Regions from separate parts of the Homo sapiens genome. Here regions 1 and 2 are each reported to be linked to region 3. The links are microRNA targets in miRTarBase. Many come from high-throughput screens and were not tested one by one. Region 3 holds a microRNA gene; each other region holds the end of a gene's coding sequence.

What was found. Region 3 holds the annotated microRNA hsa-miR-6757-5p (UAGGGAUGGGAGGCCAGGAUGA, at 3,036-3,057, shown strand). A microRNA usually pairs through its seed, bases 2 to 8, with sites in the 3' UTR of a target mRNA and lowers its output. Matches are read on the target gene's strand: a 7mer-m8 pairs with bases 2 to 8, a 7mer-A1 pairs with bases 2 to 7 and ends in A, and an 8mer does both.
Region 1: miRTarBase lists MAP7D1 as a target of hsa-miR-6757-5p. Seed matches in the 3' UTR shown: 7mer-m8 at 3,898-3,904.
Region 2: the mRNA of EIF4H is a reported target of hsa-miR-6757-5p. Seed matches in the 3' UTR shown: 7mer-m8 at 1,752-1,758.

What each region holds. Positions count from the first base shown.
Region 1 is chr1:36,179,315-36,184,378 of GRCh38, reverse strand. It overlaps MAP7D1 (MAP7 domain containing 1), which reads right to left. Exons shown (of 17, transcript NM_001388490.1): 13 at 5,064; 14 at 4,822-4,864; 15 at 4,623-4,713; 16 at 4,312-4,505; 17 at 3,530-4,131. The coding sequence ends at 4,121. Among named protein-coding and RNA genes, the nearest start is that of MAP7D1, 26 kb to the right of the region's middle. RefSeq lists an enhancer at 4,920-5,064.
Region 2 is chr7:74,194,495-74,199,558 of GRCh38, forward strand. EIF4H (eukaryotic translation initiation factor 4H) reads left to right here. Exons shown (of 7, transcript NM_022170.2): 6 at 247-384; 7 at 675-2,602. The coding sequence ends at 814. Among named protein-coding and RNA genes, the nearest start is that of MIR590, 5.8 kb to the left of the region's middle. RefSeq lists an enhancer at 1,645-2,146.
Region 3 is chr12:53,053,914-53,058,981 of GRCh38, forward strand. MIR6757 (microRNA 6757) reads left to right here and starts at 3,031; the gene lies at 3,031-3,099. TNS2 (tensin 2) reads left to right here. Exons shown (of 29, transcript NM_170754.4): 6 at 52-101; 7 at 357-528; 8 at 1,273-1,323; 9 at 1,655-1,777; 10 at 1,868-1,932; 11 at 3,100-3,183; 12 at 3,654-3,766; 13 at 3,860-3,920; 14 at 4,114-4,189; 15 at 4,403-4,532; 16 at 4,659-4,724; 17 at 4,801-4,914. TNS2-AS1 (TNS2 antisense RNA 1) reads right to left here and starts at 525. Exons shown (of 4, transcript NR_033854.1): 1 at 408-525.

The sequences.
Region 1 (5,064 bases), not on the chromosome of region 3:
GAGACCAGCCTGACCAATATGGTGAAACCCCATCTCTACTAAAAATACAAAAATTAGGCCAGGCACAGTGGCTTACGCCTGTAATCCCAGCACTTTTGGAGGCCGAGGCGGGCGGATCACGAGGTCAGGAGATCGAGACCATCCTATCCCGGCTAATACGGTGAAACCCTGTCTCTACTAAAAATACAAAAAAATTAGCCAGTCATGGTGGCTGGCGCCTGTAGTCCCAGCTACTTGGGAGGCTGAGGCAGGAGAATGCCGTGAACCCGAGAGGTGGAGCTTGCAGTGAGCCGAGATCGCGCCACTGCACTCCAGCCTGGGTGACAGAGCGAGACTCCATCTCAAAAAAAAAAAAAAAAAAAAAAAAAATACAAAAATTAGCCGGAGGTGGTGGTGTGTGACTGTAAGTCCCAGCTACTCGGGAGGCTGAGGCAGGAGAATTGCTGGAACCCCGGAGGCAGAGGTTATAGTGAGCAGAGATCACATCACTGCACTCCAGCCTGGGCCACAGAGCAAAACTCCGTCTCAAAAAACCAAAACAAAACAAAACAAAAAACTGCCTATCTGATCATGCCACCCTTCCACCCCCTGTTGAATAGCCTTCAGTGGCTTCCCATGGCCCTTGGAATAAAATCCAAGCTCTTGACCACAGCCTTACAAGGCCTTGCATGGTCTAGCTCACCTCATGCCAAGCTCCACCTCCTCAACTGACATTTCTTAATTCAACAAATATTGAGTGCCTGTTCCACCAGGCTCTGGGGTGAGCAAAAACAGACTCCTTCAGCTCTGCTTAGTCCTCTAGATACTTGAACATACCTCCTTCCCATCCACAGCCTGTGCATGTGGTTTCCCTTGTTCTGGAATCCAGTCCTTTCCCTCTCCTTCTTTCTCTACCTTCCTGACTTTGCCCAGTCAACACCTACTCACCCATCAGATCTGATTACACACCATTCATTCAGGGATATCTTATCCGACCTGAAGCTAGTTTAGGTCCCCCTGTATACGCTCTTAACTGCTCCCTATGTTTGACTTCACAGCACTCACCACATTTTCTTTTTTAACATTTGTTCCTGTGGTGATATGGTGATTTGGTTTATACCCATCTTCCTTGCCAGGAAGCGCCAGGAGCTTCTACGTCTGGTTTTTGCTTACCATCGTTTCCCTCCGGTGCTCAGCTGGTGCTCCACAGGCAATTTACTGATTGACTAAATGAATGAGTAAACAATTCCCCCATAAGAGTATTCAGAGTTCTGCCCTTCAGGGAAATGTTGGCACCTCTGCCTCACTGTACATAGGAGCTGGTGGGTGATGGCTGAGGAGGGGAGGCCGGGAGGGGCATACATATAGGAGCTCTCACCAAGCAGAGAGCTGAATGAGTGTGCTAGTCCCTTCCTGCCCCTTACTGTCCCTAGAGCGCTGTGACTTAGCCCTGCCCACCTCTCCAACCCCATCTAGCACCTCTCCCCTTTGATGCTCCAGCAAGAGGAGCTCCTGCTCCTTTGTCCCTGGAATTCCCAGCCTCCTGCATACTGACCCCTCCATCTGCAACTTGCCTCCTCCTTCCTTTCACAAGGCTGGCTCCTCCCTATCCTTCTTCAGGTCCAGTTTAAATGCTGCTTTTTTTTTTTTTTTTTTTGAGATGGAGTCTCGCACTGTTACCTGGGCTGGAGTGCAGTAACAAGATCTCGGCTCACTGCAACCTCCGCCTCCCAGGTTCAAGCGATTCTCCTGCCTCAGCCTATCGAGTAGCTGGGACTACAAGCGCGCACCACCACACCCGGCTAATTTTTTGTATTTTTAGTAGAGATGAGGTTTCACCATGTTGGCCAGGTTGGTCTTGAACTCTTGACCTCGTGATCCGCCTGCTTCAGCCTCCCAAAGTGCTGGGATTACAGGCATGAGCCAGCATGCCCGGCCTAAATGCTGCTGCTTTTTTTTTTTTTTTTTGAGACAGAGTCTCCCTCTGTCACCCAGGCTGGAGTGCAGTGGCGCGATCTCGGCTCACTGCAACCTCCGCCTCTCAGGTTCATGCCATTCTCCTGCCTCAGCCTCCCGAGTAGCTGGGACTACAGGTGCCCGCCACCACGCCCGGAGAATTTTTTGTATTTTTAGTAGAGACGGGGTTTCACTGTGTTAGCCAGGATGGTCTCGATCTCCTGACCTCGTGATCTGCCCACCTTGGCCTCCCAAAGTGCTGGGATTACAGGCGTGAGCCACCACGCCTGTCCTGTTTTTGTTTTTTGAGATAGGGTCTCACTCTGTTGCCCAGGCTGGAGTGCAGTGACACAATCAGGGCTCACTGCAGCCTTGACTTCCCAGGCTCAGATGATTCTCCCACTTCAGCCTCCTGAGTAGGTGGGATTACAGGCATGTGCCACCACGCCTGGCTAATTTTTGAATTTTTGTTAGAGATGGGGTTTCACCATGTTGCCTAGGCTGGTCTTAGAACTCTTGGGCTGAAGCAATCTACTGGCCTTGGCCTCCCAAAGTGTTGGCATTACAGGCATGAGTGCAGTGTTTTTTATACCTAATCTCAGATGTGACACACCATCACTTCTGCCGTATTCTATTGGCCACTCAACCCAACCCTGATACAACATAGGAAGGAACTACACAAGGGTGTGAATACTAGGAGGTAGGGGACATCATCGAGAGGTCATTACAGAGGCTGACGACCACATTGTCAAAAATGAGGATGCCGGTGGCTCACGCCTGTAATCCCAGCACTTTGGGAGGGCGAGGCAGGCGGATCACAAGGTCAGGAGATAAGAGAACATCCTGGCTAACACGGTGAAACCCCATCTCTACTAAAAATACAAAAATTAGGCAGGCGTGGTGGCTGGCGCCTGTAGTTCCAGCTACTCGGGAGGCTGAGGTAGGGGAATCGCTTGAACCTGGGAGGTGGACGTTGCAGTGAGCTGAGATTGCACCACTGCCCTCCAGCCTGGGCGATGGAGCCAGACTCCGTCTCAAAAAAAAAAAAATGAGGATACCCTTCCTGAAGCCCCCAGGAGGCTTCCCTTCATGTCTACTGGCTGAAACTGTGTCACATGTCCATGCCTACACCAGTCAATCATGAGGGGTTTGGGACCATTGTTTTTGATCCCAGTCACAATCACGATTCACCCCTGCGGCTAAGATCCACCTCCACTGAAGCACAGGGTGCCATCTAAAAGAAAGATGGCTACCTGAATAGAGATTATTTGGAATGAGGAAGGGGCAATGGGAATAGATGTTGAGTGGGCAGCCCACAGTGTCCACGACACTCACCCACTAGACTATAAACTGCACAAGGACAGAGATTACATCCTTTCTGACTATTGCATCCCCAGTGCATAGCCTACTGCCTGACACAGAGTAGATGCAACAGTATTTGTTGAATAAATAAATGAATGAATTCATGACTAAACTGGAAGACCATAGGGCAGGAGTTCAGGACTAATACCACCAGCCCGAGGCTTCTTCAGTTCTTAGAACTCAGGAGGCCATCTGCTCCCACCTCCGCCACCAGCTCCAAGAACAGGCAGGATTGGCAGAATTATTCTTTATTTCTGGAGACATTTAATCAGATGCAGTAACACTGATTCCAGGCGAGGGCAGGGGGCATGGGTACCCCTGAAGCAACCAGTATCCTGTGGCCCAAGGTGTCCCCCATCCCCAGACCTGGGATCCCCCTCAGTTACAGTTAAATAGAGAGAGGAAGATCTCCCCAGGGGGCTTTGGGGGGAGGGTCTGCCTCCTGCACCCACCCTCTCCACGCAGAGGAGTCTGAGCACAAGCTATTTACAGTATTCACATCCACTGTACCCCACCAAATCAAGGCAAATACTACAGGTGGCCCCTCCCCAAGGGAAGAGGCCAGAGAGGCTGTGAGTGTATATGTGTGTATGGGGGAGAAGGGATGTCTGCGCGTGCGAGCACACGAATGCACTGAGGGGCAGATCTGGCTCCGGCCAAAGAGACATCAGTCTATAAGGTGCAGATTAAAAACAACAGAGAGGACCCACCCCCAGGGGCCCAGGCCACTTCCATCTTTGTTCTGTCTTTTTCTCCTCCAGACATCCTGGTAGGTGATGCAGAGGAGCCCTCACAACTGTGCCCGGATCCAAGGCAAACCCTCTTAAAGGACTTCTGGGGAAAAACAGGAAGGGAAACAGTCAGGGCAAACAGCACTCAAGCCCAGATAGCTGGGGGTCTTCAGGGTGGAGCAGGAGAGGGTGCCTGGCAGAGCCAGAAGAGAAGGCAGGGCTGAGGAGTACAGGGAAGGCTGCTGGGAGGAATGGAGCTGGGTCCAGGAATCAGGAGATCTACCTGTGACCTGCGGGGACTGCACCACAGCTTTCTTGAGGAAGGCTTCTGCCTCTGCAAAGGGCAGGAGTGTCTCTGGTGTTCGGCTCAGACTCTTGTCCCCAGAGGGTCCGTTGGTGGAGAAGCCATTCTCCTGGTGTGCTGGGAGAGGCTGCAGGCCATTCACCAGGGACGCTGGCAACTCCTTGCTTGGGAGACTGTGGATGCAGAGGCCAAGGCTCAGCACCTCACCTCCCAGGAAAGCCCAGGCCACCCCGCAGCTCCAGCTGCAGTCTGCCTCCCTGCTCAGGGACCCTGGGATTGGAAGCTGGTACCTCCACTGAGGCTCCTGTGGGATGGGCTCCTCTTTCTGCACAGCCTCCTTCTGCAGCCCTGGGGACCGAGCCTCCACAGCTTTCACAGGCTCTGTCACAGGGAAAGAGGGGCCATCAGCCAGGGGCTGGCAAGAGAGGTGAGGATGGAGGAGGAGGAGGATGGCAAAGGGAAGGGAGGCGAGAGGAATGGGGGCTTTACCTGGGCTGGAACCGTTGGCGTTGGCCTCCTTGCTGTCCTGCTTCTGCTTTGAAGAGGAAGAGCAGTCAGGCTCAAGGGACAGCCGGCCCCAGCCACTTCGGACTGAGTTCGGCCCTCCCCTTGCCCGGGCCGCAGCGGCCTCCCTGACAGCCTCGCTCTCCGTGGCCATGGATGCCTTTCCGCAGCCTCCTTTTCACACCCTGCCCCCCACGCCCAGCACTGCCCTTCGGGGGAATTCTGACC
Region 2 (5,064 bases), not on the chromosome of region 3:
ACAGCTCGTTTGTTTGCTCTCCTAAGATCTTGATTCCTTTTTCTTTGGGAAGTCTGTTAGCGCTGTCATTACTCCACACATTGGCATTTGGACCCACTTTTAACACACTTTATTTTGGAGAGACTTCAGATAGTGGACAAACTAAAGAATTTAAAATGAAACTCAAACAATTCCCAGAACATTATTCTATAAGCAGCTTGGAGACGATAGTTTGAAAAGTAATTCAGTGTCCTGTTTCTTCCTCAGGCTTCAGGGATGACTTCTTAGGGGGCAGGGGAGGTAGTCGCCCAGGCGACCGGCGAACAGGCCCCCCCATGGGCAGCCGCTTCAGAGATGGCCCTCCCCTCCGTGGATCCAACATGGATTTCAGAGAACCCACAGAAGGTACGGGCTCATGTGTCAGTGGAGGGCATCTTGTCCTGATGGGATGATCATGGCCGGTTCACACCCCGTGGGGACTTGGCGTTCTACGGCACACAGAGTTGTCGGCATAGATCCCCACGTTCTCTGGAATAGCAAGTTCACCTTGGTCATTAGAGCATCTGCTGTTGGGGTAGCAGGCCAGGTGAATTTTAGAAAGTGGGCTGGTTTGCTGACAGCAACATCAGCATGGTCGTTTTGCTGGATATGGAATGGGATCCACACTCTGACAAACTCTGCTTTTTCTCCCCCAGAGGAAAGAGCACAGAGACCACGACTCCAGCTTAAACCTCGAACAGTCGCGACGCCCCTCAATCAAGTAGCCAATCCCAACTCTGCTATCTTCGGGGGTGCCAGGCCTAGAGAGGAAGTCGTTCAAAAGGAGCAAGAATGAGCCTGCGGTTGGGAGGGAATGGGGCGTGGGGGGTTAGAGCAGGACCACAGCCTGGTGAGTCCCCGGGCAGCCGTCCTGCAGCCGCCACTCCTGCGCCTGCCATTGGCCTCCTCACAGCGGAAACACAGCTTGTGAGTGCATGTCAGCTGTTAACAAGTGGTTTTTAGTACATTCTGGGCTTTGCTGTATCTATCTAGTGCCTGTTTGTGCGTTTTTTTCTTTCTTCCGCTGCTTCCCCATTTTCCTTCTGTCCTTTTTCTCCTGCTCCTTGTTTTCCCAGCAGCACATGGGGTTCCTCGGAGGAGCAGAGGTGGCCGCCGTGGGGGGGCGTTTGGGCTGCGGTGCTGCGTCATTTTTCCTTTGCTTTCTCTTTACTTTAGACACTGGCCCAACTCCAGGCGTTTCCTTTCATTCCCTCAGTGCTTCTCTTCTGACCTGCATGTTGAGTTCTGTATTGCTGGGGCTTCCAACAAAAACCAGAGTCACTGACAGAGGGAACAGCAGAGACCTTGTTGGTATTCAGCTGTGATGGATATAGAGAATCAGAGGCACCTTGTTTTCACAACTAGGATAAAAATATCTGCAGGGTCCTTTCCATTCCTATTTAGAGGGAGTCCTGGCTCCATGACCCCCTCCCGAGTGGACTGTCCAAGCAGATAGGCTCACACGAGAAACAGTGAGGCTGAAAGGGGGGGCTATGGAAGAGCGGTAGGGAGTCCACGGAGAAGATGCAGTGAATGCTTGCATGCATTCACACGTGTGTGTGTCCCAGCTAGTTCACTCCTTTCGCCGTGCGTGGTGGAGGCTGGCCTCTCTGGCTGGGTGCAGTGAATGGCCAGCGGGTTTCTTTTCTGCTGGGCCAAGGCGCTTTGGGGGTGGAGGGGGTGGTGCTGGTGCTGCACTGGGCTGACTGCGGCGCTGACGCAGCGTTTCCCCCCATCCCTGTTGCCTGTGTGTTGTGTGGATCTGTTCCTAGTATAGGCAACATAATGAGATACTGTGCTTCCCACCTCCCCTTCAGTTCAGAGCCAAAATGGGTCTAGAATCTGGCACTTTACTCATTTCCTTTGATAAATTGTACTATGCAGAGCTGTCAGGAACCTTCAGATAGCAGTAGAGGACTGCAGCTGTCTAGGTCTGCGGCCACATCTTGGGGACACACTGGACTGTTCCCATGTGCAGGGTTCAGCAGTTATGTGGGAGTGCTAGGGGTTAGGCTTTTGAGCTTGAACGCCTGCGTGTGAACAGATGAAAAATCCTTCAGTACCCAAGTCCCAGTCTGTCCTATGGGGAGCAGTTTGGGGGCGGCCGGCAGCAGGAGCCTGGGAAAGAGGCCCTCGCCAGGTGATGGCAGGGCCAGGGTGGCCTGGGGCACCCAGCGGAATGTGCTTAGTATTTGGTCACCAGCCGTCATCCTGGGCTTTTCCTACTGTGTCTTGTTACAAGGCCTCAGCAATCCACAGAACTCTCTCTCCTTCCTTCCACCTGTCAGCTTCTCTGCTTCTGAGATAAGAACCATTTGTGTAACACCAACACTTAACTTCAGAAAGACATGCATTATGTGGTGTAATCAAACCCGATGCTTTCAGATGACCTACTTACATCTTCAATGTGGATAAGATAAAGAACAAAACACATGCATCTAAACTGCTGGGCAATCCAGTTGACTTTTAAATGTAAGAATGGAATTCCAAACACTTAACACATTCAGCTATATGACAGAAAGTAAATCTATGGATATGGTATTTTGTGAATGATCTTTTAAATAAAAGAAAACCTTACGTAATATTTAATGCTTGCCTTTATTTTTGAGTTCTTTTTAGCTGCTCATGGAATGTAACAATTTTAAATTTGGGAAGCACCATTGAAATGGAAGAGTCTTCCTGTCATTTTAATTCTGGGATGAGTGAAGTTATTTTAAAAGCTGGTGATGATTAGAAATAGGATGCCAATTTTTTCCCCTCACTTGCTAAAAATGTCCTTTTCCCAACCAGGCAGAAACCTTGAAAGTCTGGCTGTTTTTGGTTAGGTAAAGGAACATTTTTTTCCCAAGATGGAAGAAATCAAGCATTTACACAACATGTGGCTTCTTTTAACAACTGCTTGTAAACGAAATTCTAGGTGCCCCTCATGGCTGGGAGGGCTGCTGCTTCCTGACAGCAGATCCTGACTCTGGGGAGGTGCTGCTATAGGTTGGTATTGGATAGTGTTAAAATTGACTTAGGCAGACAAAGAAGAGCTGAGTGGGCAAGGTGCGGGGCATGAATGCGTGTTTGGCAAAGTCCTGGCTGACTTTGGAAGGGCCTGGCCAAGGCAGACCTTGCCTACCTTGAGGTAGGAGCATTGTCTGGTGATGGAGGACCCCGGACCACGACTAAATTTTAGTAAGGCAGGCAAGGGCTGTTCAGGTGGGAGCCTAGAGTAACTCTTTTGCTTCAACTACTTTCTACCCAAGAGTAGGTGGTAGAGAGGACCGGTGTTTCAGAGACAGGGTCTCCCTCTGTCACCCAGACAGGAGTGCAGTGGCGTGATCTCGGCTCACTGCAGCCTCCGCCTCACGGGTTCAAATGATCCTCTTGTCAGCCTCCCAAGTATCAGGGACTACAGGCACCCACCACCATGCCTAGCTAATTTTTGTATAGTAGAGATGGGGTTTCACCATGTTGACTAGGCTGGTCTCAAACTCCTGACCTCAAGTGATCCACCCACCTCAGTCTCCCAAATTGCTGGGATTATAGGCACAAGCCACCATGCCTGGCCCTGACATCTATTTTTAGTTGGTGATTTCTAGGGAATAGCCTGGTTTTCTCAATGAAGGACATTACTTAACAGAGATTAAGTCTAGAACAAGAAGAGCTGATTAACCTAGAACACGGGTTGACCTTGCCTTTAGGGTGGTGAAACGGCCTAAAACCTGAAGGAAGACTTCCCAGGGAGCTGGTCACTGGGGCCAGGCTCACTGGGCTTCTCTGAAGTCAGACCCTGGCCACATCTGGATGTTTTGTTTTTTTGGTTTTTGTTTTTTTTTTTTTTTTTTTTTTTTTTGGTGAGATGGAGATTTACTCTTGTTGCCCAGGCTGGAATGCAATGGCACGATCTCGGCTTACTGTATCCTCCACCTCCCAGGTTCAAGCGATTCTCCTGCCTCAGCCTCCTGAGTAGCTGTGATTATAGGCATGGGCCACCACGCGCGGCTAATTTTGCATTTTTAGTAGAGACAGGTTTTCACCGTGTTGCCCAGGCTGATCTCGAACTCCTGACCTCAGGTAATCCACCTGCCTCTGCCTCCCAAAGTGCTGGGATTACAGGCATGAGCCACTGCGCCTGGCTGGATGTTTTAAGATTTTATTTTATTTTGTATTTATTTTTCTTTGAGACAGAGTCATGCTCTGCCACCCAGGGTGGAGTGCAATGGTGTAATCTCAGCTCACTGCAACCTCCGCCTCTTGGGTTCCAGCGATCCTCCCACCTCAGCCTCCCTAGTAGCAGGGATTATAGGCACATGCCACCACGCCCAGCTAATTTTTGTGTTTTTAGTAGAGATGGGGTTTCACCATGTTGGGCAGGCTGGTCTCAAACTCCTGACCTCAGGTGGATCCACCCACCTTGGCCTCCAAAGGGCTGGGATTACAGGCGTGAGCCACTGCACCTGGCCTATTTCAATTTTTGTAGAGGTTTCACCATGTTGCCCAGACTCTTCTCAAACTCCTAAGCTCAAGAGATCTTCCCACCTTGGCCTCCGAAAGTGCTAGGATTACAAGCATGAGCTACCACGCCAGGCCAATGCTGAGATGTTTTAAGTCACTTTCTCATTTGTGAGGTTGACAGACTCATGAACACTTCCAGTCTTAAGGGTTTTCCTAGACTGGGCTCGGTGGCTCACGCTTGTAATCCCAGCACTTTGGGAGGCTGAGGTGGGCCGATCACGAGGTCAGGAGATCAAGACCATCCTGGCCAACATGGTGAAACTCCATCTCTACTAAAAATACAAAAATTATCCTGGCGTGGTGGCACACGCACCTGTAGTCTCAGCTACTCGGGAGGCTGAGGCAGGAGAATCGCGTGAACCCGAGGGGGAGCTTGCAGTGAGCCGAGATCGCGCCACTGCACTCCAGCCTGGGCGACAGAGCAAGACTCAGTCTAAAAAAAAAAAACAAGTCTTCCCTTTGCATGTTTTGGTCATGAAAGAAAAATAATGAATACTATGTACTTAAAATTATAACCTACTGTTCCCCATCTGTAAACACCCT
Region 3 (5,068 bases):
AGAGTAGGGGGTACCCAAAGAGATGTCTAGACACTGTCTGTTAACCACCAGGGATCCACCAAATCTCTGAACCACTCAAAGCAGCGCAGCACTCTGCCCAGGTAAGTGAGGGTGCTGGGGTGGTCCCACGTGACCCCCTTTCCGCCGGCCCCACACCTCAGCCCAGGGCACTGCCCCGCAACAGAGCTCCCCGGGACAGCCCCCCACCCCCAAAGCGGTATTCTCCCTCCAGACCGATCCACCCACCCTCAGGACCCAGCAGGCTTCACCTGCTGCCCAACAGACAGCCTTCCCGTCACACTAGCCACCTCCGGGTGCCCCGCCCCTGCGTTCATGCGTAGGCTCCTCCTCCCCAGGAGCTTCAGCCTGGACCCGCTCATGGAGCGGCGCTGGGACTTAGACCTCACCTACGTGACGGAGCGCATCTTGGCCGCCGCCTTCCCCGCGCGGCCCGATGAACAGCGGCACCGGGGCCACCTGCGCGAGCTGGCCCATGTGCTGCAATCCAAGCACCGGGACAAGTACCTGGTGAGGGGCGGGGCCATCAGGAGTCCGCCAATGAGAGGGATGTAGGGTCCAGATGGGCGAGGCTAATCACTGACGTCACCAGCGGAGGCGAGGCCGCCAGGGGGCGGGACCAGAGTGGTGGGGTGGGGGCGGGGCCCGGAGCGCGGCCTGGAGCGGAGCGGAGAATCCTGGAACGCTGGCGACTTGGCTGTGACTGGCTAGGCCGGGCCTTAGCTACCTTTTTATTTTCTTTATTTATTTACCTTTTTTTTGAGACGGGGTCTCACTTTGTTGCCCAGGCTGGAGTGCAGTGGCACGATCTCACCTCACTGCAACCTCCTCCACCCGGGCTCAAGCGATTCTCCCACCTCAGCCTCAGTAGCTAGGATTACAGGCGTGCGTCACTCACGCCCAGCCAATTTTTTTTTTTTTTTTTTTTTTTTTTTGTATTTTTTGTAGAGACGGGGTTTCGCCATGTTGGCCAGGCTGGTCTCAAGACTCCAGGGCTCAAGCGATCCACACCCGGCAAATTGTTGTAATTTTAGTAGAGATGAGGTTTCACCATGTTGGCCAGGCTGGTCTCGAACTCCTGACCTCAGGTGACCCGCCCGCCTTGGTCTCCCAAAGTGCTGGGGTTATAGGCGTGAGTTACTGCGACCGGCCTGCACCTTATTTTAGAGGAAGATTCTTACTTAGGATCCACCTCCACCTCGTGCCTCATTGCCGGAGATCATTTCTGTCTAAAGCCCTCCCCCTTTATTTCAGCTCTTCAACCTTTCAGAGAAAAGGCATGACCTGACCCGCTTAAACCCCAAGGTATGAAGGAAATGGCCTGCCCAACCATTAAACCAAGCCACCCCAACCCCAGAAGCCCCCAGCTTCCTCGTTATTAATAGTAGCAATTGGCATCTACTTCACTCTTAAGCACTTTCCCACTCTCCCATGATATATTACTGGAGACACCCCAAAACGTGATGCAGCAGGTATCAGCCCATTGTATGGATAAGGAAAGTGCCGAGGCTATCATGGACAACCAGCAGACCCCCAGCCTTGCCCCCGGACCCCTATGCCCTGTCCCCTTTCCACCCTGCCCATCTCTCTCTGTTGGTGGCCCCCGGCCCCAGTTGCACCCCTGCATTCTCCCCAGGTTCAAGACTTCGGCTGGCCTGAGCTGCATGCTCCACCCCTGGACAAGCTGTGCTCCATCTGCAAAGCCATGGAGACATGGCTCAGTGCTGACCCACAGCACGTGGTCGTACTATACTGCAAGGTGGGCCAGGACCTCGGGTTCCCTGGTGCCTGGAGGTTCCAGGTCAGCCTGGAGCTCCCAGACCCTCATCCCTGTCTCTCTGTCTGTCAGGGAAACAAGGGCAAGCTTGGGGTCATCGTTTCTGCCTACATGCACTACAGCAAGATCTCTGCAGGGTGAGGCTCCCAGCGCCTGAGTAGCTGCTTCCCCAGTGGCCCTTTCTCCAGCTGGCCCCTTAGGAACCCATCTCCCCTGGAGCCCACCTCTTCGTTGAGAGTCCTTTGCTGTCAGCTTAGCACTTCCACCTCCCTTTTATCACTAGTACTGCAACATAGTCTGCAGCAGATGGTCTGTAGAGTTTCCTGGGGCAGCCACAAACAGGGTGGTGTAAAACAGTGGAAATGGGCCGGGTGCGTTGGCTCACGCCTGTAATACCAGCACTTTGGGAGGCTGAGGTGGGCAGGTCACCTGAGGTCAGGAGTTTGAAACTAGCCTGGCCAGGTGAAACCCCATCTCTACCAAAAATATAAAAATATAAAAATTAGCCGGGCGTGGTGGTGGGCGCCTGTAATCCCAGCTACTCAGGAGGCTGAGGCAGGAGAATTGCTTGAACCCAGGAGACGGAGGTTGCAGTGAGCCCACACGGTGCCACTGTACTCCAGCCTGGGTGACAGAGTCAGACTCCGTCTCAAAAAAAACAAAAACAAAACAAAACAAAAAACAGTGGAAATGTACTCTCTCACAGTTCTGGAGGCCAGAAGCCCCAAACCAAGCTGTCAGCAGGCCCTTGCTCCATCTGAGACTCGGGATGGAATCCTTCCTTGTCTCTTTCTAGCTTCCAGTGGTGGGCGGCAAGCCTTGGCATTCCTTGGTTTGCAGACACATCACTGTAATCGCTGCCTCTGTCATCACATGGTGTTCTCCCTGTGTGTCTCTGTCTGTGTCTCTTCCTCTCTTCTTATAAGGACACCAATCATATTGGATTCAGGGTCCACCCTCCTTCAGTATGGTCTCATCTTAACTAATTATGTCTGCAACGGCCCTATTTCCAAATAAGGTCACATTCTGAGGTACATGTCTTTTGGGGGGATATAATTCAACCCATAAGATGGTTTTGTTGCCCTGTTTTACAGATGAAAAAACTAAAGTTCAGGGAACAATTGCCTGAGGCCCAACAACTAGTAAAGTGACTGTACATGGTGCTTCTCATTCTCATTACCACTACTCTGGGCTTCTTCTAGACTTAGAGAATCATATTTCTCCTCCATCCCCTGGGGCTTAGGGATGGGAGGCCAGGATGAAGATTAATCCCTAATCCCCAACACTGGCCTTGCTATCCCCAGGGCGGACCAGGCACTGGCCACTCTTACCATGCGGAAATTCTGCGAGGACAAGGTGGCCACAGAACTGCAGCCCTCCCAGCGTCGGTGAGCAGCCTGGGTGGGGATGGGCCAGAGGAGCAGCTCCCTTCATGGCTACCAAGGCCAAGACTCTCTTATTCATGCAGCACACTTTCACTGAGTGTGCCAAGCGCCGTGCCAGGTGCTGAGAATTCAAAGTGGACAAAGCCCCTGCTCTCATGGAGCTTTCATGCTAGTAGGGTGGAAGGCAGTAGACCTGGGAATAAATAGACGAGGAGATCAGTCATAAAGAGAACCTGAAGGACAGTCAGGGCCTGCCACTATAAAGTGAAGCAGAGCTCTGGGGAAAGAGCTTTGAGGCAGAGGGGAGCAGGAGGGATTGAGGTTAGATGCAAGGAAGAACTTTCTGGTGACCCGGAAGATGGGAAGGAAGTGTTGAGCAGAAGAGCGAGCCTTCTAAGGGTGGATGGTTGAAATGATACAAGGTGACCTCCAGAGGAAAAGGCTTATGTTCTCCTTGACACGCCCTCCACCAGATATATCAGCTACTTCAGTGGGCTGCTATCTGGCTCCATCAGAATGAACAGCAGCCCTCTCTTCCTGCACTATGTGCTCATCCCCATGCTGCCAGCCTTTGAACCTGGCACAGGTGAGTCTGCCTGAGATGTGCTCCCTAGGGAGAACCACCTTCAGGCCCTCTCCACTCAGCACCCCTCCTGTGCCTTCTCCTCTGCCCCTCCAGGCTTCCAGCCCTTCCTTAAAATCTACCAGTCCATGCAGCTTGTCTACACATCTGGAGTCTAGTGAGTGCTCTATTCCCAGGCCCCTGACACTTCATGACCAGGGCCCCTCTTGCTCCTGCATTCCTGCTTCTCCAGCCTCCCTAGACACCTGGGCAGGGCTCAGACTCTGGTCTCCTGGCTCCCCCTGACTGCATAGCTGCCTCTGCACGCAGGAGCTTCTGGTTCATCTCTGCCTTCTCCTCTCTCCCCACAGTCACATTGCAGGCCCTGGTCCCCAGCAGCTTTGCATCAGCCTGGAGCCAGCCCTCCTCCTCAAAGGCGATGTCATGGTGAGGGGGGTCCTGTCAACAAGAAGAATCCTGGAGATGGGGCAGGGGTTGGTGGTGTAACGGCACAGTCACCAATTTGAGACAGATTGGAGAGCGAGTAGGGAGATCACCTTGAGATCGAGGCAGGGCAGAAGCTGTGACCAGGCAGTCCCCAGGGTGGAAGCGCAGAAGAGGACATGAGGCCTGATCCGCAGCCTCCTGCCTTTCTCCCAGGTAACATGTTATCACAAGGGTGGCCGGGGCACAGACCGGACCCTCGTGTTCCGAGTCCAGTTCCACACCTGCACCATCCACGGACCACAGCTCACTTTCCCCAAGGACCAGCTTGACGAGGCCTGGACTGGTGAGTCTGAGACAAGTGGCCTGGGGCTGGAGTCCAGGTGGCAGGCAGGTGGCAGGCAGGTGGCAGGCAGGCAGGAGAGTGTGGTATGGGCCAGGGGCCTGGTTCTTCACTGTCCACTCCCCATAGATGAGAGGTTCCCCTTCCAAGCCTCCGTGGAGTTTGTCTTCTCCTCCAGCCCCGAGAAGATCAAAGGTAAGAGCAGGGACATGGGCTGGGGACTGAGGGCCGCCTCTCCCCTGCTCCCCAATACCCGAGTGGCCTTCCACAGGCAGCACTCCACGGAACGACCCCTCGGTCTCTGTCGACTACAACACCACTGAGCCAGCCGTGCGCTGGGACTCCTATGAGAACTTCAACCAGCACCACGAGGACAGTGTGGATGGTGCGCAGGCAGCCTGCAGGGTGGGAGGTACAGGGTTGTGGCGGGACCCTGGGGGGTGGTGCCAGGGAGAAGCACACTCCCTCCTCCCCAGGCAGAGCCCACTCCCGAGAGACACCCCCGGCCCGACAGCTGTCTCCAGTGCCATCCCCTCTCA